2 separate regions of the Homo sapiens genome follow, and region 1 is linked to region 2. The links come from fine-mapping of genetic effects on gene expression. Tissue or cell type: NK cells. Region 2 holds a variant in brackets; the other region holds the start of a gene. All regions are shown on one strand. Distances are between the middles of the regions.

What was found. PIP is the estimated chance that this variant, and not a neighbour inherited with it, causes the effect.
Region 1: MARCHF10 starts here. The variant in region 2 is fine-mapped to the expression of MARCHF10 in NK cells (Gilchrist 2021, PIP 0.95).

What each region holds. Positions count from the first base shown.
Region 1 is chr17:62,803,479-62,811,582 of GRCh38, reverse strand. MARCHF10 (membrane associated ring-CH-type finger 10) reads left to right here and starts at 3,269. Exons shown (of 11, transcript NM_152598.4): 1 at 3,269-3,506. MARCHF10-DT (MARCHF10 divergent transcript) reads right to left here and starts at 3,081. Exons shown (of 2, transcript NR_135634.1): 1 at 2,632-3,081. RefSeq lists a silencer at 3,231-3,380.
Region 2 is chr17:62,710,749-62,718,852 of GRCh38, reverse strand. MARCHF10 (membrane associated ring-CH-type finger 10) reads left to right here. Exons shown (of 11, transcript NM_152598.4): 9 at 7,509-7,622. The region is part of intron 2 of MARCHF10-AS1 (MARCHF10 antisense RNA 1); the gene reads right to left. Among named protein-coding and RNA genes, the nearest start is that of MARCHF10-AS1, 8.6 kb to the right of the region's middle. The variant T/G (reference allele first, on the strand shown) is at 4,396.

The DNA of each region.
Region 1 (8,104 bases), 93 kb before region 2:
TACCAGGAACATTGTGCAGGAAATAATGAAGAGTAGGATCCTTTCCCCAACCAGGAGAAGTTTTTCTTCTTCATTTTAATATTTCTCCTCCTAAGGACTTTGCTTTTTAATGCCAGAACTAATCTTATTTGTAATTTACATGCCTAGCTTAAATTTACTCATTAAACACTAAAGTTGGAGTTGCTCTATAGCTTTTTATGAGCTGACCTTGGGCACTATTACCCTCTTTCAAAGGCACCATGATTTTTTCATATAACTTAATTTTCAAGAACACTTGACATGTGGAAGAGTTTAAAGCTGAGATATGAAGTGACTTCTCCAGACCTTGTTATTTAAAAATCTTTAGGCTGGGCACAGTGGCTCACACCTATAATCCCAGCACTTTGTGGGGGCCGAAGAGGGTGGATCACCTGATGTCAGGAGTTTGAGACTGGCCTGGTCAACCTGGCAAAACTCTGTATCTACTAAAAATACAAAAATTAGCTGGGCATGGTGGCACGTGCTTGTAGTCCCAGCTACTCAGGAGGCTGAGGCAGGAGAATCGCTTGAACCTGGGATGCGGCAGTTACAGTGAGCCAAGATCGCGCTATAACACTCCAGCCTGGGTGACAGACTCTGGCTCAAAAAAAAAAAAAATTAAAAAATTAAAAATAAATAAAAATCTTTAAATATTTACGGTTAACATTCACATGCAATAAAATCTTAAGTTATGCCTTATAAAGCAAAGCTACCAATTATTGAGTGCTATGTGCCAAGCATGATGTGAAATGCTTTGCTTGTCCTCTCTCATTTAATTCCCACAGCAAGCTTTTGAGATAGATAGTATTATTTTAATAGATCTTGTCTGGGTACAGGAAGTACCAAGGTGCTTTTCTTAGTAGTGGGCAACATCAAGTTACTGGAGATGGAAAGCCCTGTTTTTGAACCCTGGTTCTGGTACTTACCATATGTTCTGGTCATGTCCCTTACCTTCAACAAGGTGAGAACCTGGGCTTCAACTTCCTCCTCTGTTATTTTTATTTGAGGTGGGTCCTCGCGCCAACAGAACAAGCTCCCTACCTATCATTTCACTATTATAGTTTCAACCCAGTGTGCGCATCCAAACTTTTTTTTTTTTTTTTGAGACAGAGTTTCTTGTCGCCCAGGCTGGAGTGCAACCTCCGCCTCCTGGGTTCAAGCAATTCTCCTGCCTCAGCTTCCTGAGTAGCTGGGTTTACAGGTGGCTGCCAGCACACCTGGCTAATTTTTGTATTTCTAGTTGAGATGGGGTTTCACCATGTTGGCCAGGCTGGTCTCAAAACTCCTGACCTCAGGTGATCCCCCTGCCTCGGCCTCCCAAAGTGCTGGGATTACAAGCGTGAGCCACCATGCCTGGCCCAAAGCATATCCTTTTGAAAGGCAAAAACCATGAGGCAAGTTCTTAGGTTACATCCTTATCAGTTAATACTTCAATTATCAGTTAATGCTTTACTAAGGAATACTTGATAATCAGCTGAGAACAAGAACAGAATATGGACTGGGCTACTAGAGATGAAAAGATCCTAGGGTCTGCTGGAGGACCAGCGAAGTTCAGATGGGAAAGTGCCCAGTGGAAAGACTTCAGCTAAGTACATTTGTCTAGACTCTGCCCAGCTCATGATATGTCTTTGAAGCTGGTGTGAAGGCAAGGAAAAATGTTCAGTGTGTAACACATAGTCCCATCTGGCTGAAGTATGAGTGAAGAAGTGATGAAGGGGAAAAACCAAGAAAGGAAACTGTGGGGGAGGGCACAGGGAAAGTCATAGTGACGAGTTTGGACTTCATTCCACAGGCGGTGAGGAACCTTTCAGGGCTTTTTAAGCAGGGGGCCAGCAACATTAGATGTAGGCTGCTTATAGGATGGGGGAAATGGTGAAGATAGGGTGTGGAGGACAGGCGCCCAGGGTGTGACCAGGAGGCCCTCAGAATAATCCATGGAGCCCAAAACTAGGTCATGGAGCCCAAAACTAGAGTGATAAGAATAGAAAGAAGAATGTGACGCTGCCAAGGACTTGGCACCAACTGAATGGGGGGAAGGGGAGGTGTTGAGAAGACGGTCAAACCACAGACACCTAGGGATTCCGGGCACTGATGAAAGTTCCAAGAATTTCTATTCTTCCTTTACCTTACTCTCCACTCAATCAAAAATACCCTAACTTGACATCAGTTGACAAGTTGAGAGCCTAAATATGCAAAGTAAATAGGGGAGTCATCTTTGCCCATGAGAACCACAGACAGACATCAACCCGGCAAAGCCGGGCAAGGTGGCTCATGCCTGTAATCCCAGCACTTTCGGAGGCCCAGGCGGGCGGATCACTTGAGGTCAGGAGTTCGAGACCAGCCTGGCCAACATGGAGAAACCCCGTCTCTACTTAAAAAAAAAAAAAAAATACAAAAACTAGCCGGGTGTGGTGGCGCATGCCTGTAATCCCAGCTACTCGGACGGCTGAAGCATGAAAATCGCTTGAGCCCCGGAGGCAGAGGTTGCAGTGAGCCAAGATCGTGCCACTGCACTGTCCAGCCTGAGCTACAGAGCAAGACTCTGTCTAAAAAAAAAAAAAAGAAAGAAAGAAAAAAAAGAAAAGAAAAGAAAAGAAAAAGAAAGAAATCAACCTGGCACAGAGAAGGTGAGGGTAGTAGCGGTTCTGGTGCCCTGGCTCCAAAGCTGTAGGGCCTGGTCTAGGCCTCTAAGCACCTCTCTCCTTGGAAAGGGGGTGAAGACGACTGATTACGAAGAGGCCTGGGCTCTAATGTCGGTTCTGCCACTGACTGGGTGCCTGGCTTCATCGCTTATTTCTTCTTTTTCGTGTTGGACCAGAGCATTCCAGATGTCCTCTGCAGAGGTCGAACTCCAGGACTGCAGTATCTTTTCCTCTTCGCATGTACCGCTTTTCACATTCCCTGATTCCATTAAAAATATTTTCCTCTCTCGTTTTCTAATCTCATTTTTTATGAAGCACAGCACCCTTTCAGGGAAGGGAGCAGAGGCCTGGATATCTGGGTCTGGGCTTGGGCACCCAGACAAAGCCAACCGCCTCCTCCTTGGGCATCTCTTCTCTGCCCACCAGCGTGGCTCTGACTCCCCGACTGCAGCCCGCCTCGTTCCCACGGCAACCGGCGGGCGCCCACGACTGGCTTGGGACCCCGGGGCCACAGCCCCGCCCCGCCCCGCCCCGTGCTCTCGGCGGCTGCACCTGGTCGCGCGGGGGCGGGGAGGCGCGGTTGCTAGGGAAACCGGAGGACGCCCGGTAGCCGCCCCCACCGCCTCCGCCCCAGGCAAGGCCGGCCGGCGCCGCGGAAAGCAGCCTCGGGGAAGGAGGAGGAAGAGGGGCAGGTGTAGGGAGTGAAGAAGCAAAAAGAGGAGGAGGAAGAGGAGCTCAGGGCCGTCCCCGCGCAATTAATGGGCGGCTCCTGCGCCCTGGACCGGCCCGCCCGCCCAGCCCCTCGACCCCTGTAGCCCCGGCAGGGGAGGAAGGGCAGACCCACAGGTAACGGCCCCCTCGCCCCCGCCGCTCCGCTCCAGTTCTCCCAGGATGGGGGACAACCTTCCCTTTCGACTTACAAGATTCTGGAGGGAAACCGGGCCTGACATCCGGTGGCCTGGCCGTCCCCTCCCCTCGGCTGACCCCAGCCCCAGCATTTTTCTGTCTCAGAGGGACAGGTTTGGGGGAGACCGTGAACCTTTGCTCACTGGCACCCACATTCTTTCCTGCAGACGCCACTGGTCAGAAAAGGTATACACAGACCATGGCCCACTGGGCTTCTGAATGCGAAATGGTCGATATTGATTTTGTTTATTTTTGAGAAGGAGTCTCGCTCTGTCTCCCAGGTTGGAGTGCAGCGGTGCAGTCAGGGCTCACTGCAGCCTCGACCTCCCAGGCTCAAGCGATCCTCCCGCCTCAGCCTCCCGGTGGTAGCTGGGACCACAGGCCAACACCATGTCTGGCTAATGTTTTAAATTATTTGTAAAGAAGGGGTCTCGTTATGTTTCTCTGGCTGGATATTGTTATTAATGATGGCACTGAATTGCTTGTCAAACCTGTGACGTTTCCTCCCCCAGAGTTTCCCAATTACACGTTGAGTTTCTCCTCTCTTCTGGGCTTGATGGTCGAAATGTGACCACCTATCTCTCCTAGTTTCACAGTAAAATGAAGAGTCACCGCCAAACACAAGTCTGTTCCCCACCCTCCACCCCGCCCCCAACTCTTAAGCCAAATTGGCTGGAAGAGTTGAAAGATCTCCTTACCTTTCCCAACCAATTCCCCCTTTTTCTCTGCAGTCACAGTATTCTTAAATTGGGCCCAAATCGTAAACTTTGTTGCTTATACTCAAGACATGTTTATAAGCTAAGACTTTAAAATGCAAAGTTTTTTTTAGAGCTAAGATTTAAACAAATCCTATAATGTCTGACATTACAAATTAATCAATTGGGGAAAAGGTTGAATAAGGTCTCCTGAAATCCTTCTCCAATCACCTAATTGTGGAAAGGGAGTAATTTTCGAGCCTGATTGTCCGGTATTAACAATAGCCATTTAGATTTTATTTCAAAGCAACCTTCCGTCTAAGGAGGAGGTTAGATTGTTTACATTTCCTTTATTGCTTAACAGCATATTAACTTTAGTGATGTCTTTCTCTTATGAGAACATAGTAAGAAACCAATAAGACTTTGATTGTTATTAAGAACAGGCTCCTTCAAATCAGTTCTTTTGACAAATGTGGTCATAAAACAGAGGGATGGTACGTATGCATGACTTTTAGAGCACTGAAAAACATTCTGCAATCAGATTCTGTTCCCCTCAGTCAGGAAAACTTGGTTGGAATTCACTGGAAAATTACACTAGAGAAGAACGTGTATGTCACAAAGTTCTTAGAATATTCCCCCATTAAAATTTCACAGATATGTAGAATTTTGAGGCCAAGAAGAATTACTCGCTCTTGCTTTCAGCAAGGCAGGACCCCCTCCTTCCTTCTCCACCTGCCTCCAACTCCCTCCTCCTTTCTCTCTCCCTACTTAATATGGCTTCTTATGTTGATTTCTAAAGCACAGATTTGGCACAAGACATTATCACCAGAAAGACTTAAAACAGAAGTGTGCATAACCATGAGTGGGTTTTAAATTAAGAAGCAGTTCAAAGGTGAGCGATAGAAGAGAATACAGAGTGCTATTTTAGAAACATGCGCCTTGCTCACATTTTATTATCACCCCCACCCCAACCCTCTGTGTTTGCTGGGGAAAAATTCTTGGCTTCAAGTGGCCATCTGGTTGAGTAGGCCCACAAAGCTGAGATCCATGAATTAAGCATTATCTCATGTAGTTTTATTTCCATACTGTTATTTCTGTTTCTTGTTCATCCTGGTCAGTTTTTCAAACTGACTGAGTGCAGTATGAACTTCAAGCAAACACAGAGAATGTTTGCTTATACTGAGGTAACCCACCATCTTCTTGGTCTGACACTAATACCGTTTTCTTGGTTCCCGTAATATTTGTTTAATCTCATGAAGACTTGATGTATTTAAATAAAAAATTACATGTGGCACCACGATGTTTCTAAATATTGTAAAATACAATGTAATAGAGAGTTTATGGGAAGGAAGAGAGACTTTTGTAGGCAATTTTATTTTTATTATTTTATTATTATTATTATTATTTTTTTTTATTTTTGAGGGGATGGAGTCTCTCTCTGGAGTGCAGTGGTGCGATCTTGGCTCACTGCAACCTCCGCCTTCCAGGTTCAAGTGATTCTTCTGTCTCAGCCTCCCAAGTAGCTGGGACTACAGGAGTGCACCACCACGCCCAGCAAATTTTTGTATTTTTAGTAAAGATGGGGTTTTGCCACGTTGGCCAGGCCGATCTCGAACTCCTGACCTCAAGTGATCCACCTGCCTTGGCCTCTGTAAGTGCTGGGATTACAGGCATTTTAAAGTCCTTTATTTGGTAGGTGATTGTGAAGTCAGAGGTAACTTAGCAAGTAATTCAAAGGGTGCTACTTCCTATTTAGACAAAGTTATTTCATGCCTCTTGACTTAGAAGCCTCCTTAAATTAACCCTGCTCTAAAGCCGTGATAGATTAACCGGCTTTCTATATTAACTTTGGCAACCAAAATGTATCATCCAAGTGGACTCTGGGATGCTCCCCTTTAGTGACCATTAACATATTTTTATTATGAGTCTTTATGGTCTCTGCCTGAATAAGATTCAGACAGGCTTCTCTTTCCCACAGTAGCAGCAGGAGCTTATCCTTCTGCCTGTTTTAACACCATCGTTTTCTGAAAAGAGTGCAAAGGTAACTTCATTCTATGCAGGTACACATTCAGATGAAAAGCTAAAAGTGATCTTTTAAAACATAGTCCCATAAGTGATTATTAAAATGCTTAGAGACAAAATGTATGTTTTGTGTGTAGACTGGAAATACACATTGGATTGTAGTTTCAGATTCTGACTGTCAAAAGACCAACTTTCCATACTCCAGAGAAAATAGCCCCCAAGAGACGAGCACAAGTTTTCCCCATTGTTCAGGGCCAGATGATAAACCATGTGAGATTTCATAACTACCAGACCAGACGCTGGGTCACCATGAGTCCGGGGCGGCCTGACTCTGCCAATATCTGCACAACTGAATAAACAGGAGGAGCGAGGGAATGCCGCAGAACGTATACACCTGAAGGTAGAGATGTCGCCTGTCCCATCCTGATGTTTCCCCAGAGCCTAGCAGCCCTTGTCACACACAGCAGTTGTAAAAAATATGTGTGTGTGTGTGTGTGTAGAAATAAATGAAAGAGCTTCAGTAGACAACAAACAGGAATAGTGTGGGGGCTTTGATGACCCCATAGATGAGGGGTCGTTATTAACAGTGCCATTTTATCCCTTTGTGAGCTTAGATATCTTGGCCATAAATTTGGGCCATGCCAGTCAAAGCCAAACTTCTTGAAAGCATGATCTCCACGCCTTTGCCTCCCATTTACGCAACCTTCTGCAGCCCTCCCAGCCCCGTCACTCCAATGAATGCTCTCACCAAGGTTATTAATAGCCTCCTTTTTGAAACCCTCTCTTCTGGGCATCTCTGAAACGGCACCCACCTGGTTTCTTCCTGCCTCTCTGGCTTTTTCTTTTTTTTCCGCAGAGTTTCTCTTCAGCGGCTTGTTCTCTAAATATTCGTGTTCTTCACGAGGTTTTGTCCCTGTGTCCTCTTTCTCTTTTCGTTCCCATTCTTCCTTCAACTTCAGTTATCACAGAATGCCAGCAGTGCCCAAATCTGTACCTCTCCGGTCAGCTCCAGAGCCCTGCGTCTGACAGCACACTTGACATCTCCGTTTGCCGCACCGCAGACACTTGTGACGCCATGCTGTCTCCTCACAAAGCAGCTCCTCCTGTGTTTTCTGAAGCGAATGCTGGCACCAACCCACTGGCTGCTCAAGCCAGTAACCTGGGCATCCCTGAGACTTCCACCCCTGGTCCATTCATATAATCGCAAGCCCTGATGACTTTCTGTCCTGAGCATCCCTTGAATCCCTTGGTTAAGAGTGTGGGTACTGGAGCGAGTCTCCGGGTTCACATCCCGACTCTTCCCCTCACTAGCTCCGTAACTTTAGGGAAGTTACTTAATCCCTTTGGTCCTCAGTTTCCTCACCTGCGAAATAGAGATCTAGTGCTGGCCTCACTGCGTTGTTGAGAAGATTGAATGAGTTAATTGATGTAACTGCTTAGAACAAGGCCTATCCCTTCCAGAGGGTCGGTAAAGAGTAACTATGGGCCGGGCGCAGTAGCTTATGCCTGTAATCCCAGCACTTTGGGAGGCCAAGGTGGGCAGATCACCTGACGTCAGGAGCTCAAGATCAGTCTGGCCGATATGGTGAAACCTCGCCTCTACTAATAAAAAATTAGCCGGGTGTGGTGGCACGTGCCTGTAATCCCAGCTACTTGGGAGGCTGAAGCAGGAGAATAGCTGGAACCTGGGAGGCGGAGGTTGTGGTGAGCCGAGATAGCCCCACGGCACTCCAGCCTGGGCGACAGAGCAGGACTCCATCTCAAAAAAAAATAAAAAAGAGTAGCTATGATCCCCTCTCCCTCCCCACTGTCCTCCACCTC
Region 2 (8,104 bases):
GAAGGGAGGGCAGGGGAGGGGAGAGGAGAAGGACTTCTTGAGAAATAAATAGTGTTTTGAGGCCTGAAGGTCTCACATCACTGCATCATAACCACCAGGCACTAAGATCTGAGACGATAAACAGCGCGACTCACATTCCTGGACGCTGAGCATGTGGGAGGCGAAATACTGAAAGAAACCAGAACCTCTCAGTGCCTGAGGTCAGGTGCCAGTCAGGGTGCCGACAGGTTCATCTCAAGAAATAGATCATTTTGGGCAACGGAGCCTGCCGAATCTCCTAAGGAGGACGTGTCCACGTGAGGATGGGTTGCCCAGAATACTATCTATCAGAGCAATCTACTGACACCACAAACACCGTGCAGCCCAGGGGAATGCCTTGTCTAGAAAAGATCCCTTTTGGCCCCAAGCCTTTCCACATGGTTCTCCCTCTGCCAAGCTGCTGCCACCATCTAATGTCCTTTATCAATGGCATTTATAGAACTGACCCAACAGCAGCACATTTTTCCATTTGTACTAAGATGTTTGCACTCATGTAGTCTGAGGCCGCAGGTCCCACTGAAAAGCCTACCAGCTTTGATTAAGATCTCAGTCTAAACCCTACTCTCTTCCCCAGAGTGGCCCCGTGACCTTGAGGAGACTATGGCAATTCTCTGCACCTCAGTTCTCTTATCTGTAGAAGGTGAGAGATGTTAACTCACACCTCACAGGTCTGGATGTAGGAAAAGACTCGAGTACATCACCTCATAGACAGAGTGTGGGCAGAGGAGGCTCCACGCATGAGAACTGTCAGATTACAGCCACAGAGACGCTCGACTGACTTGGCACTCAGGGGAGAAAGCTACGTGCACCAATGACTGGCCTAGAGTCCATCAGTGAACTAACAAAACAAACCAGCCCCACTGGGTCACATCCATATCCTCGGCCCCACCGCACCCTCCATGTTAAGACAACTGGCTACAAGCACCTTCTAGAAAGAACTATGACAGTAATTGTATCAGCCAGGATCTGGGTGGGAAGAGATGGTGGCACACTCAAAGGGGGCAAGTGAAGAACGCAGAAGGGAGGAGGGAAATCTGGGCAGCAAAAGAAAGCAGCAAGGAACGAGGAGGCGTCCTGGGACTAGCAGTGTGGCCAGGGTCATGAGCGCTGTAGCTAAGGATCAGCCACCAGCAGCCTGTGGCCTTCAGGAGAAGACAGCAACCACTGTCACACCACGCCCAGCAGAGAGGGATTGGGAAGAGACACCCAGCTTCTCCCTCCTCCGCCCTCGGGTCTCCTGCCGGGGCCTCCCATGGGCCAAACCCAACGGGAAGCCAGAGGGCAAGGAAGCCCGGCTGGGGAAAGCCATGGGGCCGGCCCCTGGGCCACAGAGCAGGAGGGGTGCGGATCTGCAGGAGAGACAGAAAGCATCCAGCACAGTCATTGCTCCACGTGGAAGCAGGAATGATTTTAAATTCGTTTCAGTGAGAACTTCACAAGCCATCAGAGCCTTTGGGAAATGCCCGCATTATCATCCCAGGTGACAGCTAGGCTGCCAGGCCCGCCCTGTGGGGAGAGCCAGGTCATAGCATGGGCGGCTGCTGTCTGGAGGCGGCTGAGGGCTCACACCTCACTGCAGCCCTGACTGTCCCCATGACCTGCTGGGAATTCATAGTGCCTGTCTGCTCACAGCCTGGGCGAAACCCCAGGCCCCAGGGAGCCTGACTTGGGCGAATTCTGAAGCTCGCCATAGATAAAGACTGAAGCAACTGTTGTTGAACACAAAGATATCTACAACGTCACTGAAACTCAGCTCGTCCCCGAGGCGCGGTGAGCCCACTGAGGGGACAAGCCCAGCTGAGGAGGCCACCAGCCTGGCCGTGGAGGTGACATGGACACCTGTGCCTTGTGGGCCTGGTCCCTTCCCCTCGCTTCCAAACCTGGCTCACCTGGGCCTCCTGGCCACCCTCCTGCTGCTTGTCCTTGGCAAATGGGTTCCTTTCTGGAGAAGTGGCACCACTTCTAGACGTGTACAAGTCTAGACATGTACCAAAAAAGGGGCAAAACCAAAAGAAACCTAGAACGGGCTTCAGCTTAGCCTGGTTCTCACTTAACCTCAAACTAACTGACTAGTGAACTGTTTTTCTTATATATTTTCCCACTTAGAATTTTTTTTTTTTTGCTTTTGTTTAATTACAAAAACCATACAAAAATTTCTTATAATTTACCACCCAAAATGATAACTTATAACATTTAGCTGCAGGTCTTCTTTTTTTCTATTAAAATGGTGATACACAGGCCCAACCCAGGTCTAACCCCAGCTCTGGGATGGGGCCAGGGTCCCTCCTGGGTTCAAGGGATCCTCCTGCCTCAGCCTCCTAAGTAGCTGGGTCCACAGGTGTGTGCCACCACACCCTGCTTTTTTTCTTTTTTTTTTTTTTTGAGAGATGGGGTCTGTCTCACTTTGTTGCCCAGGCTGGTCTCAAAATCTTGGGCTCAAGTGATCTTCCCACCTTGGCCTCCCAAAGTGCTAGGGTTACAGGTGTGAGCTACCACACCCAGCCAGTTTAACTAAATTTTCAAATACTTATTGAGCACCTGCTGCCTGTGAGATACTGTGCCGAAAATGCTGCCGTACCCAAGACCCGCAGGGCCCTACCGACCAGCAGCGAAGACTGAAGCCAGCAATTCCTGCAGGTGGAGGTCAAAACAAGGACCATGCAGGCCGCTGCGGGAACAGCTGTGGGACTCCGACTTGCTCTCTGAACCAGAGAAGGCCTTTCTGAAGAAGAGATGTTTAACAGCGGAAGGAAAGAGAGGAGCGGGCCTTCTATCAACCGGGCCTTGGAGTGAAGTCTGTGACATCTGGGACGGACGCCTCCCCTGGGACCTGAGCACAGATCAGGGCGTGTCCTCTAGGTGCCGGGTCAGCACTGTCGGTGGCCTTTGAGAGTGTGGAGGGGCTCCCGTCAGAGCACGTTTTCCTACCTTAGTTCTGTACTTCTGGTGGGAGCAGGGCAGATGCTGCTCACAGGTGCTAACAGGGCACTGAACTCGGATTATTCTAGTATGAGGCCCAAGGTCAAGGTCTGTTACCAGGCCTCAAGCGGCTAGATCAGGAACTCCTACAAGCATCTGGAGAGGGGATCATTAGACAAGAGCAGCTGTGGGACCCCAGGGACCTGGCGGTTTCATCTTAGGTCTGTCAGGGCCTGTGGCAGTACAGCCCTCCTTTCTCCTGACTCTTTCGGTAGTGCTGTGTGTGAGGCAAGCCTACATTTGCTCCTGTGAGCGTTGGCTGTCGCCTGGAAGCAGGACTCATATTGGATGCTGGTTGGGCACTCGGTTTTGCGGTGGAGGGCAGAACTCCTGGACAGCAGCATGCGGCGAGCCAAATAACATTCTAGCCTCCAAAATGGATGAGGTGAAAACAGGTTTAAGGAAAGCTTAGGTCACAGGTTACACACTCAAATACCACAGAGGCCAGGCAGACAACAAATGATGGTAATCTTCTAGGTATCCTGCCATTGGGCGTGGTGGCATTTGTGGCAAAATGGAAAGTGCTCTCCCCAACTAAAGATGGTCATGCTCTTCTTTTCTACCTTCCTTCTTGCTTCCTTCCATCCAACCAGAGCACATCCACAGGCCAGATTCAGCTTAGCAGCTACCACGTGCTCACCCTTAGTTTAGATCAGTGGTTCTCAAAAATGGGTGGTCCCCAAACCAGGAGCGTTAGCATCATCTGGGAACTTGTTAGAAGTACACATTCTTGGGCCCACTCCAGTCCAGCTGAATCAGAAATGCAGGGAGGAAAGGAGGAGCAGTGAGGCCAGGCGCGGTGACTCACGCCTGTAATCGCAACACTTTGAAAGGCCGAGGTGGGTGGATCATTTGAGGTCAGGAGTTGGAGACCAGCCTGGCCAAATGTGGTGAAACCCCGTCTCTACTAAAAATACAAAAATTAGCTGGGAGTGGTGGCACACACCTGAAATCCCAGCTACTCGGGAGGCTGAGGCAGGAGAATCACTTAAACCTGGGAGGCGGAGGTTGCAGTGAGCCGAGATCACACCATTGCACTCCAGCCTGGGCAACAGAGTGAGACTGTCTCAAAAAAAGAGGAGAAGGGGGAGGGGAGGGGACGGGACTGCCTGGCAACTGTGTTTGAAAAGGCCTGCTCAGTATTTCTGATGCATGTTAAACCTGGAGCCACTAGATTCAAAAGTTGTGGCTGAATGGGTCACTGTCTGATCCATCACAATTATGCATTTTTTTCTCATTGCTTCATCTGTGCATATATTTATAAAGCATGCACAGTATACCAGGCACTGGGCCAGGCACTAGGAGTCAGGAGCAAACAAGACAGATGCAGGTCTTGCCCTCACAGATCTTAACGCCCAGACAATTTACCTGGAATCC[T/G]GTCTTTAAATCTTGTCTCTTGTAGGATGTGTTGGTGTTGCGAGATCCCATATATTAGCTCACTTTACTATCATGCTTTGAGGAAACAGGCAGAACAGAGGTTACTTCCCTTCCATTACAAATTGAGTCCCTTTGGTCCTGCACAGTTAAAACTCTGCCTAAAGTCACAGTGTCCGGTGGCCCTGCACTGCCCACCTTAGCCGGCAGCGCTTTCCAGGTAAGATGCACTCCAGGGGCCCCTGCTCACTGAATTGGAACACACCCCTGCCATCCTTGCTCTGCCGCACAGGAGAGTCTCAGTGGGCCTCAGGCTGTCATTGCTGTGAAGCACAGGCCTGGCCTGGCTCCATCTCAGCCAAGGACAGATGTCCTCAGACACACGCAGTCACCTAATCACCCTTATACCTAGGAGCACTCTTGAATATATTTGAAGACTTGATAGAACATTCAGCCAGGCTGTCAGCTTCTTTAAGTGGAATATATTGAGAATTTCCGTCAGTAGCAAGTCTCTTGGCCTAAATGAATATTAGCAAAATGGAGAAAACAGCTGGCAGGTGGGCTGAGATCTCCGGAGCCCTTTTGCGCTGTTTCACATGCCTTCTCCTTTTTAATGTCCCCGCCCCCTCCTATTAATGCCACCCCCATTCCCTTCAGTCTGGCACACAAAGGGAACTCCACGTGGGAGTCAAAGTGTGATGTGATTGGGACAAGGAAGGGGTGGATGGGCCGTAGCTCCAGTAAGCCCTGCTCCAAAACCTCGTTCATTTGGCCCTGGCCAGCCAAGTGCGGTGGAACTCTTTGAGTTAACAAATCCCTCCCACTTGTAGCTCAGGAGTGTAAAGGCTGATTCGGAGTTGACTATCACACGCCTGCTCTGATTGGTGGGCTGAGCCCCTTTGTCGAGCATCACCAGCTCTGCAAAGGGCGCACATAAAGGAACCGAGCCGGCGAGATTGATGGCACTGTGTGGCAGGTTCCCTCCCACAGATCAGAGAAGAGACACAATCTGCTAGAAGTGACTTTTCAAATTATCTGCAGAAAACATTAGTGGATATTCTCCCATCTGCATGCCTCTGGGCCTTATTGAGTCATAAAAAGTAAATGATTTTCCTGAATGCTTTGACAAACCTGATAGTTCCAAACCATTTTCTAGCTGATTGATTTGTCATCATGCATCCCGGTGTCTCAAGCATAAAAGCTGGCTGGCAAAGAGCACTGGTGAGAGAACCACTGGCAGCTTTTGCAGGAGGAAGCCGGGGATGAGGTAAACAAATAAGGACCAAGGCTTTGTTGGTGAGGAGGAGCTAAAAGCCAGGTGAGGAAGGCTTCTCAGAAGAGGTGGTTGGCGAGACAGTCGGAGGCAGGCACAGACTCACGGGGAGGGCAGGAGGAGGCAATTAAAACAGAAAAAGTGGCTAGGCAGGGTGGCTTACACCTGTAATCCCAGCACTTTGGGAGGCCAAGGCAGGTGGATCACCTGAGGCCAGGAGTTCGAGACCAGCCTGGCCAACATGATGAAACCCCATCTCTACTAAAAATACAAAAATTAGCTGGGCGTGGTGGTGCACACCTGTAATCCCAGCTACTCAGGAGGCTGAGGCAGGAGAATTGCTTGAACCTGGGAGGTGGAGGTTGCAGTGAGCCGAGATCACGCCATTGCACTCCAGCCTGGGCAAGACTGTGTCTGTCTCAAAAATAAAATTAAATAAATAAAACAGAAATAATGCAAACAAGCAACTTCTTCTCTACTCACTCTAGGCCAAGGTCAGCAGAGCACAAAAAACACGACCAAAGGCTAAAAATAGGAGGCTAACTGCTAAGGACAGAGGACTGGGGCCTTCGAAGATGGATCTGTAGAATGGTGGAGAGGCCTGCAGCAGTGATCTCAGGGCCGGCTGTCACCAAGATCCAGAGTTGGCCCTGATTCAGAAGGAAGAGCATATCAATCCTTGCTCAACTTCTGTGCCTTTTCTGGCAGCTGCTTGGTCCTGGGAGAGGTGGGTTCTGTGCCAACCTCCTGAGCTGCCCTGGATCTAATGAGAACAGGAAGATGTGGCACCCGCGCTGCTGCAGGAAGAAGGCAGATGAGACACTGAGTGCTCACTGTGTCATTCATGCCCACGCATCGTTATCCTGGGCCGACAGAGTCACAGTTGCAAGCTTTCCCAAGGGTGACGGAAGGGGCCATGCCCTCTGCTGGGGACTCTATTCCCCGGGGGCTGGGTGGCTTTGTGAGCACAGCCTGGCCCATCCCAAGACCCCCACTCAAGGGAAAGATGGGGACTGAAAGGGCCTTCCCCTCCTTCCCCTATAGAGGGATAGGAGTAGTTGTTACTAATACCACTGATTTATGGAAGGTCTGTGAAAGGTCTAGAGTGAGCACAGCCACTCTTGGCAGCAAAGCCCAAGTGCTAAGGACAGAGAAGTGCCATGGGCAGCCAGACCATCACATCCTCCCTGTGTAGCGCCTGTTCTGAGCACCAGCGAGAAAAAAAGCACAGCCCACTCCTCAAGAGAAAGCGGAAACGTTAACAAGTGCAAAAGGTGATATGCAAGATCAAGACGAATGCTTAGGGACTGGGAAGCAAAGGAATGATGGGGGCAAAGGAGGCTCCTCAGGAAGCCTTTCACAAGGGGACATCTGTGACTGCTGAGAACGTTATGGACAAGGCCTGGTGCATCTCTGTTGTAGCACCCGACACATCCAGCTTGTACTGGAGCTGTTTACCGATGAAGCTCTCTCCCCCACACCAGGTGATCGGTTCCCAGCAGGGAGTTCTGAGGCTTTTTGCCCTGTGTTCCCCACAACATCCAGCTCAAGGCTTTGCATATGTAACTGCTCAATAAATGTGGAATGGGATTGAGCCTGGAAAATGGAACTTTCTCCGAGCATCCTCCACTAGCTAGTAAAAAATCCCAGGGGAGTGGCTGCCCTGGCCTCTACCCTGGATCTCCTCCTGCTCTGTCTTCTGGTCCCCAAGAGCAGGCCTTGCCTTGGAGCTTGGGCTCTTCTCCCAGTTCTTGTCACCTCTTAGCCTTGTTACCCTGCATCCCACAATTTAGACCATGACTATTTTACAGATGAACTGAAGAGCTTTCTTTTCCATTTGTAGGCACAAAACGAGCTGATGAATTCAGGCTTGTACCTGGTGCTGCTGCTTCACCTCTATGAGCAGAGGTTTGCAGAACTCATGAGGCTCAACCACAACCAGGTGGAAAGAGAGAGGGTAAGTCTGGCTGTGACCCAGAGCTGTCCGGTGGCAGCCCTGAAAACCCTGCAGTGCTGTTTATTAGATGTGCAAGCTGTTGAGGTCCTCACGGTCGCTTGGGAGGATATGGGACTATCATTGTTAGGACTAAGATTTAGCAGCTGCTAAGTGTACACATGGTGACCCTCTGGCTGAAAAGTAAGTGACGATCACATAATTGCTTATTATTAAACATGAGTAGTAATTAAATGGTCATCAATGGTCATATAACCGAATGAGCCTCTAGGATATTTGCCCCCCAAAAATAGAGGAGAGCAAGGATGCAGGGGCTGGTTGTGTATTACGTGTGGGCACCCGAACATGGAGGACCTGCGAAAAAGAGGAACCTGGCTGGGTGTGATGGCTCATGCCTGTAATCCCAGCGCTTTGGGAGGCCGAGGCTAGAGGATCACTTGAGCTCAGGAATTTGAGGCCAACCTGGCCAACATGGTGAAACCCTG